Linked DNA regions of Homo sapiens: region 2 is linked to region 1. Evidence: fine-mapped expression QTL. A gene starts in region 1. The other region holds a variant in brackets. All regions are shown on one strand. Distances are between the middles of the regions.

Evidence for each region. PIP is the estimated chance that this variant, and not a neighbour inherited with it, causes the effect.
Region 2: its variant is the best candidate, but not a certain one, in a credible set for the expression of TMEM47 in tibial artery (GTEx, PIP 0.59).

What each region holds. Positions count from the first base shown.
Region 1 is chrX:34,654,088-34,659,474 of GRCh38, reverse strand. TMEM47 (transmembrane protein 47) reads left to right here and starts at 2,190. Exons shown (of 3, transcript NM_031442.4): 1 at 2,190-2,671. The coding sequence starts at 2,446.
Region 2 is chrX:35,420,574-35,425,960 of GRCh38, reverse strand. No RefSeq gene overlaps it. Among named protein-coding and RNA genes, the nearest start is that of MAGEB16, 380 kb to the left of the region's middle. The variant T/C (reference allele first, on the strand shown) is at 2,126.

The sequences.
Region 1 (5,387 bases):
AGTGTCCCTGTGCCCCTGAGTTTGCTACAAATATATGAAAAGAAAAAAAATACTTTTGAGAGTTTGTTGTATTTTGAAATTGAGGATTAGGGATGGTTGATGGGCCTATGTTGTGCAAAATTCTATAAATTATTAATAGAGGAATAGAGTTTTTTAAGGAAAATTTGGCTTTTTGTTAAAAATTGTTTACTTTTCTAGTTTTGGAGACAGTATAGAGACAATTTTTTTAGATAGTATAAAGAAGGATGGAGTAACTCAAGCAAGCAGTTGAGAACAAGCCAGAAAAAAATTAAGCAAAAATGTGGGTGGAGGTGGGGGTTGGGGTAGGGGTAGAGGGGAAAGAAAGCCTGCATTGAAGAGAATAAAGAAAACTATTGGCTAATTGGAAAATAAACTTATTAAAGAGAAGATGATAGAAGTTGGAGGCAAAATAAAGATTTCTTTATATCTTTGAGAGCACACTCAAGACATTTTCTTATTACTTTTGAATACACATTATAAATCTAGATAAAAGAACAGTCACACAATCCTGGTCACCTCTTAATTGTCCCGGTTTGTAAATTTTTCAGTGTTCCCTAATTTTTTAAGGAGAATATGCACTTAGGCTTCTTTCTAGTTGAGAAGCCAAGAAGCCCTTTGGGATTTGGAGGTTAGTGAGCTCTGGATGCTCTAGGCATTCTTTGTTAAGGGTCCTGCAATAATTAGCACGGTAATGATTGAGAGGTGGGAGAAAAGTTCCCGAAATTGTAAATATAAGAAAAGCCCGGGCGTTTATTTTACATTAGGTTTGTTCTCATTTGACACTAACTCGATTGTTTCTTAGCCCAAAATGTTGCTGCAGTCAACATGTGTTCAACCTATGGAAAGATGTGGTTGGGGAAAAATAATTTTTATCAACCAAAAGTATGAAATCTTGCAACATTGAGGATTGTGTTTCATAGAAGAGAGAACATGTTTCTTGCATTCTTCAGCTCTTAACCACTGTTTTGGGAGTCTCACCAAGTTTTTGGGATGACTAAAGATCTAGAAACATCGCCCCTCCTCATTAATGTATTCAATAAATTATTTATTTTATAGAAAAGATGGAGATGAGTCAAAGAGCTACAAGAGACAGATAACCCACCAATCACATGCTGAACCAGGCAATTACAAAATTTCAATTTCAATTTCAAGAGGTGTTTAGTCCTCACATAAGGGAGAAAATATGGTGCATCTACTTAAGAACAGGACGATGTCCTATTGTGTTGAATCCTTAGCCCTTAGATGCTCAACAAATATTTGTAGACTGCTTAGTTTACCATTCAGGAAATATACACATCACTTTTCCTATTGCAGGTCCTGGGCTAGATCTTGCTAAGGACAAGGACATCCTAATACCCAGGAGGGGAATTAGATCCAGCTTGGCATAATGCAAAGCGGAATTAATAAAGGTTTTAGCCAACACCCAAAGGGCAGAGCAGTGGAGATGGAAATAAGACTTACTTCATATTTCGCAGGAGCTCTCATTTCCTTTTTAGCGCCTGCGTTTTCAGAGCAAATGCCCTTCATAGGGGGGCGCAAAAGCAGGTGAGCCCAGAGAACAGAAGCGGCAGCAGGCTAGCGGAGAAGTGAGAAAACAGGGAAAACCGGGGGACTCCTGGGCCCGTCTGGTTTTGAAAAGAGGGCAAAATGCATTTAGTCACTTTTCTCCTCCGTCCCGCAAATCTCTCAGGATGTGAAATTGTCCGGGGAGGGGCGTGTTACATCACTGAGAGACAGAGGACCTGTCCTTGCTCCAAGAGGCACAGCTTAGGAAACCTAGGAATCCACCTCTGGCGCCTTCTAGAAAACCGCCCACTCCTGCTCCCTAAGAAAAGGAAACCCACGTGACTGGGCGAAAGGGGAGAGCCCGGCGACCTGGAGCCAGCGAGGCTGGGGGCCCGGCGAGGGCCGGGCTGGGCGCGGGGCTGCTTCAAGGAACTGCCGCGCGCTGCGAATCGGGGGCGCGGGCTGGCACTGGGCTCCGCCCGCGGGCCAGAGGCGGGGTAGGGGCGGGACAGGCGCGAGCCTCCGGCACTGGGAACTGGAGCCGAAGCCACCAAGTGCTGGCCCTCCGCCCCTCCCCGTACGGCACCGCCTCCCGCAGCCCGGGGAGGGGCCGGGGCGGAGCGAGCCCGGCCGAGCCGGGAGGAGCGGGCGCGGGCGCTGGCAGAGCGCGGCGCGGGGCCGGCGGCGAAGGTCCGGGGTGGAATCGACGTCGCTGCGGCTGCCGACGACCCACACCCGGCCGGCCGCCTCCGCAGACCCACCTTGGCCGCGCGGCAGGGGGCGCGCAGAGCCCCGAGGGAGCGAGTCCCCGCGCGTGGCAGCTCGGCGGCTTCTCCCTTCGGGAGGTCCGGCTCCCGGCTCTCCGGACCCGCCTGGCGTCCTCGCCTGCGGCGGGGCGGACGACAGCGGCGCCCAGGAATGGCTTCGGCGGGCAGCGGCATGGAGGAGGTGCGCGTGTCGGTGCTGACCCCCTTGAAGCTGGTCGGGCTGGTGTGCATCTTCCTGGCGCTGTGTCTGGACCTGGGGGCGGTGCTGAGCCCGGCCTGGGTCACAGCTGACCACCAGTACTACCTGTCGTTGTGGGAGTCCTGCCGGAAACCCGCCAGCTTGGACATCTGGCACTGCGAGTCCACGCTCAGCAGCGGTGAGGGCCTGGCGCGCCGCGACCCCTGCCTCCCGCCCCGGACTGCCCCGCGCCCCACTGCCAGGACAGTCACCGCCTGTCCCCACGTCCCCGCATCCTCTGCCCTGGCCCGTCCCACCCCGTCCAGGCCCTTCTCGGATCCTGGGGCTCCCGCCACCTCCCTGGCATCCACCCCTCTTCCCTCCCCATCCCTGGTCGCCAAACCTAAAGCGACAGCCCACGCCCTCTCCCTTCCCCGTGGCCATTCCTCCTGTTCTGGAGTAACACGTACGCTATTTTGGGTATTTGTTATCATTTGAGGCGAGAGCCATGTGGCTGTGTAAAAAAATGCGACGCCTTCCACACCCCCGTTAAAAAAGAAGCAGGCAAAAACGCCCCAACTCCACCGAGATGCTGCGGGGGTTCGCTGTTCGGTCTTCCCCACTCTTTTTCCTTCCTCTCTCGAGGACGAATTTGCCTAGTGTTCACATTTCTGCCGGTTCCACTCCACCTTATCTGCGTTTTCACCAATGTATTTCGGTTTGGATTTTATTTCCTTACGTTTTTGATGGATATGAAGAGTTGAGAGAGGGACAGGCTTGTTTTCCTTTCCTTTTTTGGTGACGCCGCCGTTGATTGTGAGTTGCCTTTCTTTCTCTGCCACTCTAAGTAACTCTTCTCTCCTCCAGACCTTTCTTTTCTCCATGAGCTACTCACAGATGCCTAGAAAGTTGTGCTTTATTCCGCCAGCGCTGAAAGCTGCAAATGGATAAGATGGGGGTGGGGAGTGGAGAATAAGGTAGCTACTGAGGCTACCAGTCCCAGGGGGCTTTACTGCTTTCCGCCCTCCCTGACCCTCCAGTTGCCTTCCCCGGCGCCCCAGTTATGCCCTTAGCAAAAATCAGTCAACTTATGATTTCTCGCTACAAACCCCTTCCTTTCTAATTTTGATTCTTCAACTGCTGGTGTCAGCGAAGAGAAAGGGAAATAAAGAGAGAGGACCTGCCGGCGATTTTCTTTCTTTCTCTCTCTTTCTCTCTCTCTCTCTCACACACACATACACAGACTCACACACACACACATAGACACCTGAGAAACTCATTACATTCCTTCCAGTTTCATGTCTTCTCTGGGACTATTTATAAAGCTTTCCTGGAAACGTTTCAAGTTGTAACAAAGTTGAAATAGCACAAAAAGCCACAAAAATCTGATTTTCTTTTGTCTTTGGTTTCCTGTTATAACACAGGAAAATTTGACCAAGTTTCTTCTGTAAATTTAATTTTGTGTTTAAAAAAGGCTTTTTCTTTGATACTACCTCAAAATTCCCATTGAAGGGTTTCCTCTTTGTTGGTTAATTCACTGTGGAGGGAACTGGTTGGCAGCAGGAGGTCAACATTTAGGTCCTTCAATTCTTTCAGGGTTGGCAGTTTACAACTAAAGATAAAATAAATCGGCAGAATTTCTTTCTTCGGTAACCAGGGGATCCAAATAAACTTTGGCGAAAATATCTCCTTTCCCCTCTTCAATAATAAAATTTATGTAGGAATGACAGCTACTGCACGACTCCTTGGCAACGTGAATGTTTTGCCCCTTTCTCTCTGTCTCCTGAAATAATAGACCCCTGATTGCATAAAGACTTTTCAGATAGGTTAGAGAAACCAGTTTCAACTCACATTTGCTTTTCAAGCCAGTACCCTTTTTTCTTGGCCAGGAATGTAGGGAATGGGGAGAAGCCAGCTCGAGTTTGCAGAGCAACATACAGTGTTTGCTAACCTTTTCTTAATTGCCTCCATACCCATTTATCTCAGCTTTTTTCCTCTCTAGTCAAGGAAATATGGAGACGCAAGCCTAATGCAAATATAGCGGTAATAGCACTCTGCAAAGTAAAAATCAAAGGCAGGCCCAGTTTGGGATTTTTCCCTGTTTATTCTACCCCCTTGCTGAAAGTCATAGCCCAGCGTATATTTCTATTTGGATTTCTGAAAATCAGCTTTCATCTTATCTTGCCTTAAAAAAATAGTTTTCAGCCCAGATAAAGTAGAATTCATAAGCAAATGGGTAAAAAGTAGAGATGATTTTGTTAGAGGTTTTCTGGAACAAGTTCTTGACTTTGTGTATATATAATAGCAGTTCATTTTTTGCTCTCCACGGTGATGGTGGGACACAGGGCGGGGGTGGAGGAAAGGAAACAAGATATGGAAAATTGCTCTGTGTCCCCACTTTACAAAATGTACTTTCTTATGTTATGTGAATTTGAAGCTTCTGTCCGCCAGTGTTTTGAAAGGAAGGGGAATGCCCGAATCAAAACCAGCAGTGCTTTTCTTGTCTGTTCCAAAGGGCAAGCAGCTTTTTTCGTCTGTTTGCTGTGTGGAGTAGCAGAAAACAGGGAGGGAAATGTCTTCTCTGAAGATTTTGAGAGATCCACATCTTTGTCTTTCAAAATAAATTACCTTGGGAGGAACCACCAAGGACACTTTTACTGAAGGCCCTTCACCAGGATCTTTAAGGCTTAATTAAAAATGTTTGTCTTAATTAGAATTAAAACTGCTGTGAAGAGGCAGGCCTGTATTTACTGAAGGAGCATTTCAGGAATGTTTCTACTCACAATAGTATGCCCTACTTAGACCCAGTTTCTACTGAAACTTTCCCCTAAGCCATTATTTTTAAACTTGCATTTTAATTTTGGTACCAAATGTGCATCATTTGCTGTTTATAACCTGTTTTATGATTTTAAGCA
Region 2 (5,387 bases), 770 kb before region 1:
GGCATGAGCCTCCGTGCCCGGCCGAGAGACATACTTTTTAGTAGAGATTTATAGTATTTTCAGCTAAGAGAATCTTGGTATTACTCATTTGTAATATTTCTGCCCATAATATCTGTTACACTTAAAAACACATGTATTAATATTATTTTAAGGTATTTTAAAACAAATTAATGTAATTTTAGATTCATATGCAGTGGTACAATTTAAAAAGTGAGATTCCATGTACTCTTTGTCCAATTTCCCCAATGATAACATCTTGCAAAACTATAGTAGAATATCATAACCAGAATATTTATATCTATACAGTCAAGAGAAAAAGTAGTTCTAGCACCACATTTATCTTTCATGTTGCTTTTTTATAGTCAAGCTTACCACATTCCAATTTCTACCCCCTCCTTAAACCCTGAAAACCACTAATCTATTCTCCATTTCTAATATTATGTCATTTAAAAAATGTTATATAAATGGAATTATAGAGTAAGTGGCATTTGGGGATTGGCTTGTTTTTATCTCAGAATAAGTCTCTGAAGATTCATCCAGGCTGCTGTGTGTATCAGTGGTTTATTTCCTTTTATTGCTAAGTAGTATTCCATGGTACATATACCAAATATTCTGTAATCATTCACCTGCTGAATAACATCTGAGTTGTTTCCACTTTTGACTATTACAAATAAGGCTACTATGAACTTTCATGTACAGGTATTTGAACAGAACTTTTCATTTCTTGGTGATGAATGTTCAAGAGTGTAAATGCTAGATTGTAGGGTATTTGCTTTTTTTTTAATAAGAAACCACCAAAATCTTTCCAGAGTGGTTGTGACATTTTACATTCTCACCAGCAACATTTCTGTGATCTGGTTTCTTCACATCCTTAACAACATTTGTTATTTTCACTATTTTTTATTGTAGCCATTCTGATGGGGAATATTAGAATCTCTGTTTTGTTTTTTTGTTGTTGTTTGTTTGTTTGTTTGTTTGTTTAGATGGAGTTTCTCTCTTGTTGTCCAGGCTGGAGTGCAATGGCACGATCTCGGCTCACTGCAACCTCCGCCTCCTGGGTTCAAGCAATTCTCCTCCCATAGCCTCCCAAGTAGCTGGGATTATAGGCATGCGCCACCATGCCTGGCTAACTTTGTATTTTTAGTAGAGATGGGGTTTCTCCATATTTGTCAGGCTGGTCTTGAACTCCTGACCTCAGGTGATCTGCCGACCTCGGCCTCCCAAAGTGCTGGCATTACAGGCATGAGCCACCACGCCTGGCACTCACTGTGGTTTTAAAATGAATTTTCATAATTTTTAATGCGGTTCAACATCTTTTTATATACTTATTTATACTTATTTACCCTCTCTATATATCCTCTTTAGTAAAACGTCTCTTCATGTATTTTAGCATTTCTAATCACTTAGATTAGATTTTGTTTGATTGTTATTTTTTTACTACTGAGTTTTGAGAGTTTTAATATTCTGTAGACAGTAGTAGTTCTTTGATAAATATATGGTTTGGTTTCTAATTGTTTTCTTTCCATTTGTAGCTTGTGTTTTCATTCTCTTAACATAACGTGTCACAGAAGAAAATTTTCTAATTTTAAAGAAATTTAGGTTATTTGTTTTTCTGAATTGTGCTTTTAGTCAAGTTTAGGAACACTACTTAGCTTTAGATCATAACTATTTTTACTTTTTTCTAGCAGTTCTATAGTTTTAAGCTTTATTTAAATTTGTGATCCATTTTGAGTTAATTTTTGTATGTGGTGTATGACTTAGGCTGAGATTCAATTTGAAATGGTAGCTTTGTCTCCATTGAAGTCCTGATTCACAGACATCTTTGGGAGTTTTCTACTATATGCTGCTCTCCTTGACTACCCAAGAGAAATTCTGATGTGTAGGGGTCTGAGAATAAACCCAATGCAGTCAAGGTGAAGGACCCTCTGAAGTGATGAACTTCTGAATAATGGCCTCTCAAAGATTTCCCAGCATTTGAGGCCAGGCCTCGCTTCATGTTTGGTAGTGATCCTGTCCCACACATGGGTTTAGGAAACCACATCCAGCGTCTATCATTATCTTTGTACAATAGCTCCAAGCAACTATACTTAAATCATTGCTACAACTTTGCAAAAATATGTTAGCT[T/C]TAATGTTCTCAAAAAATAATTTCATTGTTCCTGATTATAAGCTTACTCACCAAAGTAAATAATCTAGTGCTTTGATTAAATAAAGTTTAGAATCAAGTCTAATATCCATAATTCTATTAAAAAATCCTAATTCTGCCTCAATATTTATTTCTCTCTTAGATATTCAATAATTGCATTTTCTCTGCAGTGACCTTTTGCACTGAAATAAATTGCTAAAGAGTGTCTTATTGCTGACACAGATTAGAGTTTGTTGCTAATTGAATGCTAACTCCTTTTTAAGAAACTCTGAAAAAATTCCCTGATCCATAAAAGATTAATTCTAAATGAATTCAATTCACTTTCTGGCTCTACCACTTCTACTGTCATGAAATTTCTTTTATATTTTACCTTACTTCAGCCATCGCAATATTGACAGTGGCACCTGGCTTGTGACACTATGTTTTAATTGGAGCACTGACACACTCAAAAATATGTCAAGGTTTTCATGTAAGGAACAGACACTCCTCCAAAGAAAAAGTATATTCAAGAATGTCTTCTAATACAAAAGTCATTTTCAGGGAACAAGGATTTGCTCCATTTCAAAGATCAGAAAGCCAGTGCTGAAAAAGCATTCTGAGGTTTCCAAAGATAACTAAAGCCTGTGACTTCAGCTTCATCCTTAGGAATTAATTTCCTGTGTGATTTTGTATCTGGGACAACCACTCACAGAGGTCTGTGCAAAACTTTAGCAAAAGCAAAATACAACACCTCAGAAGATGTTTTGGTGGACAGAATCGCTTCAGGATCCAGAGTGCCTTCCTGTCTTGTTTGCCTTCATAGGGTAGTCCATTCCTAGTAGAAAATAGTCCTGTCCAGAGTATGGTTTAAAAATGGGGTCTGTACCTTTCTTCTGGGTCTGCATATTATATTTTGAAACACTGATAGAATATGTGTAAAAAAACATGTATATGAAAAAATGAACTGACATGTATATGACATTTACTTTCTCAAATCTCATGAAAAATTTGGAATATTTTCTTAACCAAAGTTCTTTCAATAATGCATAAATCTAGTACTTATTTAAATTATTGCTTTTGAGGAGTTGTGTAAGTTATGATGATATATAATATATACAAGATATATATATATATAGACTGTTAATTGTTTTTAAGTTATTGACTTATATGTTTAGGATAGAAAATGATGGTTTAGGACTATTAAACTGAAAATGTGGGTCATGAGATGTTTCTACTTCCATTTAGCATTTTATAATAAAAAGTGATGACACTAAATCTATATTTAAGCATCAGTTACTCCTGAACACAGCATTTAAAATGTATTATCCAAGTAGAACCTACAGGAACATGATCTGGTGACTCAGAAAAGCTTTCATTCTCTGGGACTAAAGTCAAACACTTTGAATCAGCCAGTGCGGAAGTTGCTTTAACGGGGCATTTTGACAATGTTGGTTATACAGATTCTTATTTCAATTATTTTAAGTGTATATATTTTAGTAAGTAAATGAATCTTAAGAAAGCTTGATAAATGTTTACATCTATGAAATCAGCACCAAAATCAAGATACATATCCAGCACCCAGGAAAGCTCTCCTGTGCCCACTCCTAGTTTATATACTCCAAAAGTTTTGTTTGTTTTTGAACTCGATATGAATGGAATTATAGTTTGTCCTCTTTTGTGCTTGGCCTTCTTTTGCTCAATTTTATTTATGTGAAATTCATCCATGTATTTTCAGAAATCATAAAACTATTATTGCTGAGTTATATCCCATTGTATGAATACATAACATATATTTATCCATTCACATTATGAGGTTTTTTTCCATGTATTTTGGTGCATATGTGTATGCATTTCTCTTGTATATATAGCCAAGTGTGGAATTACTGAATCCTAGAGTGTTTTTTAGCTATACTAGTTGCCAGCAAACAGTTTTCCAAAGTGTTTTTTACCAATTTACCCCTAGCCAACAACGTGCAAGAGTTCCAGTCACTCTAAATCCTTGCCAACACTTGACATTGGCAGTTCTTTTAATTTTAACTATCCTGTTGGTGGTACAGTAATCTCCTACTAAGGTTTGAACTTGCAATCCTGATGACTAATAATGTTAAACACCATTTTATATATTAATTAACAATCTGGATTGCATGCACAACTTTTAATATAAAAAGAATAATAAAGTAAATATTCTTACTTTTCTTCATGGATCTTAGATAAAATAGCTGTCAACTCACAAACTTCACTAAAACCATTCATTATTATCCCAAATTAATAAACGTGAAAGAAAGAAACCAGAATCCCATTTTTAAAAGCCACAGGTCAGCAGTGAGAAAGTACTATAACTGCTGAGCTTCATCTCAAGTAGAGCTTCTCCAATGTTTTGTTTTTTATTCTATGCTAATCAAGTCTAGAGTATGATGTCTGTCACAAATAATCATAGAAACACATTATCATACTAACTAAAGCAATTATGTCTTAAACTATGACAACTGTTAGAACAGTGTAAGGGTTAGAGGTTTAGAATGAGATTTCATAAGATATGTTGAGTGGCATTTTATTTGGTACACATAAATGTTTAATATTTTATGTTTTGGGGTATCAGATCATAACTTCATGTGAATTACTCATAATGTATATGAATATGTTATAGTACAGCAAACCATTTAGAGACATGTACTACTATAAATAAGCATGCATATAAAAAGCTCTTAATAGTTCGTTAAACCTCATAATTTGTTGGAGGCACATAAATGACAAAGACTATCCACATTTCTGAAAGCAAGGTAGAGTCTCTGCAAGAATAAGGCCCTAAATGAGGGGAAAACTCCATACTCTGGCATAAAAAGTAAGGTGGATAGTGGTGTCGAAATCTTGATAGCAATGAACCATGTTGGATGTTGGACTAAAAATGCAGTAATCCTGCACTCCATCAAGAGGTTAGAATCATCCTGGGCAACCAGGCACTTAACATTTGTCCACAAGTGCTATTGGTATGTCACCATTACTGGCTACACATATACAAATATTTCAGTAATATGCTTTTTCCTTAAAATCAGATAAATTTGACTTTAATTGGAGCAATTGAATGATGACACTTTGCAAGGTGAGTTCTGGAGTCAGACTTCAGTTTGGGTTTTTGATGCGTCTTTTAATAACCATCTCAGACTCCATTTGCTTCGTTGTAATATGGAAGCCAGTAACCACTGTTCCCCCACTTTTCTTGAAGTTGTAAAGAAGTTTACATTAAATAACATTACAGAATAAAAAT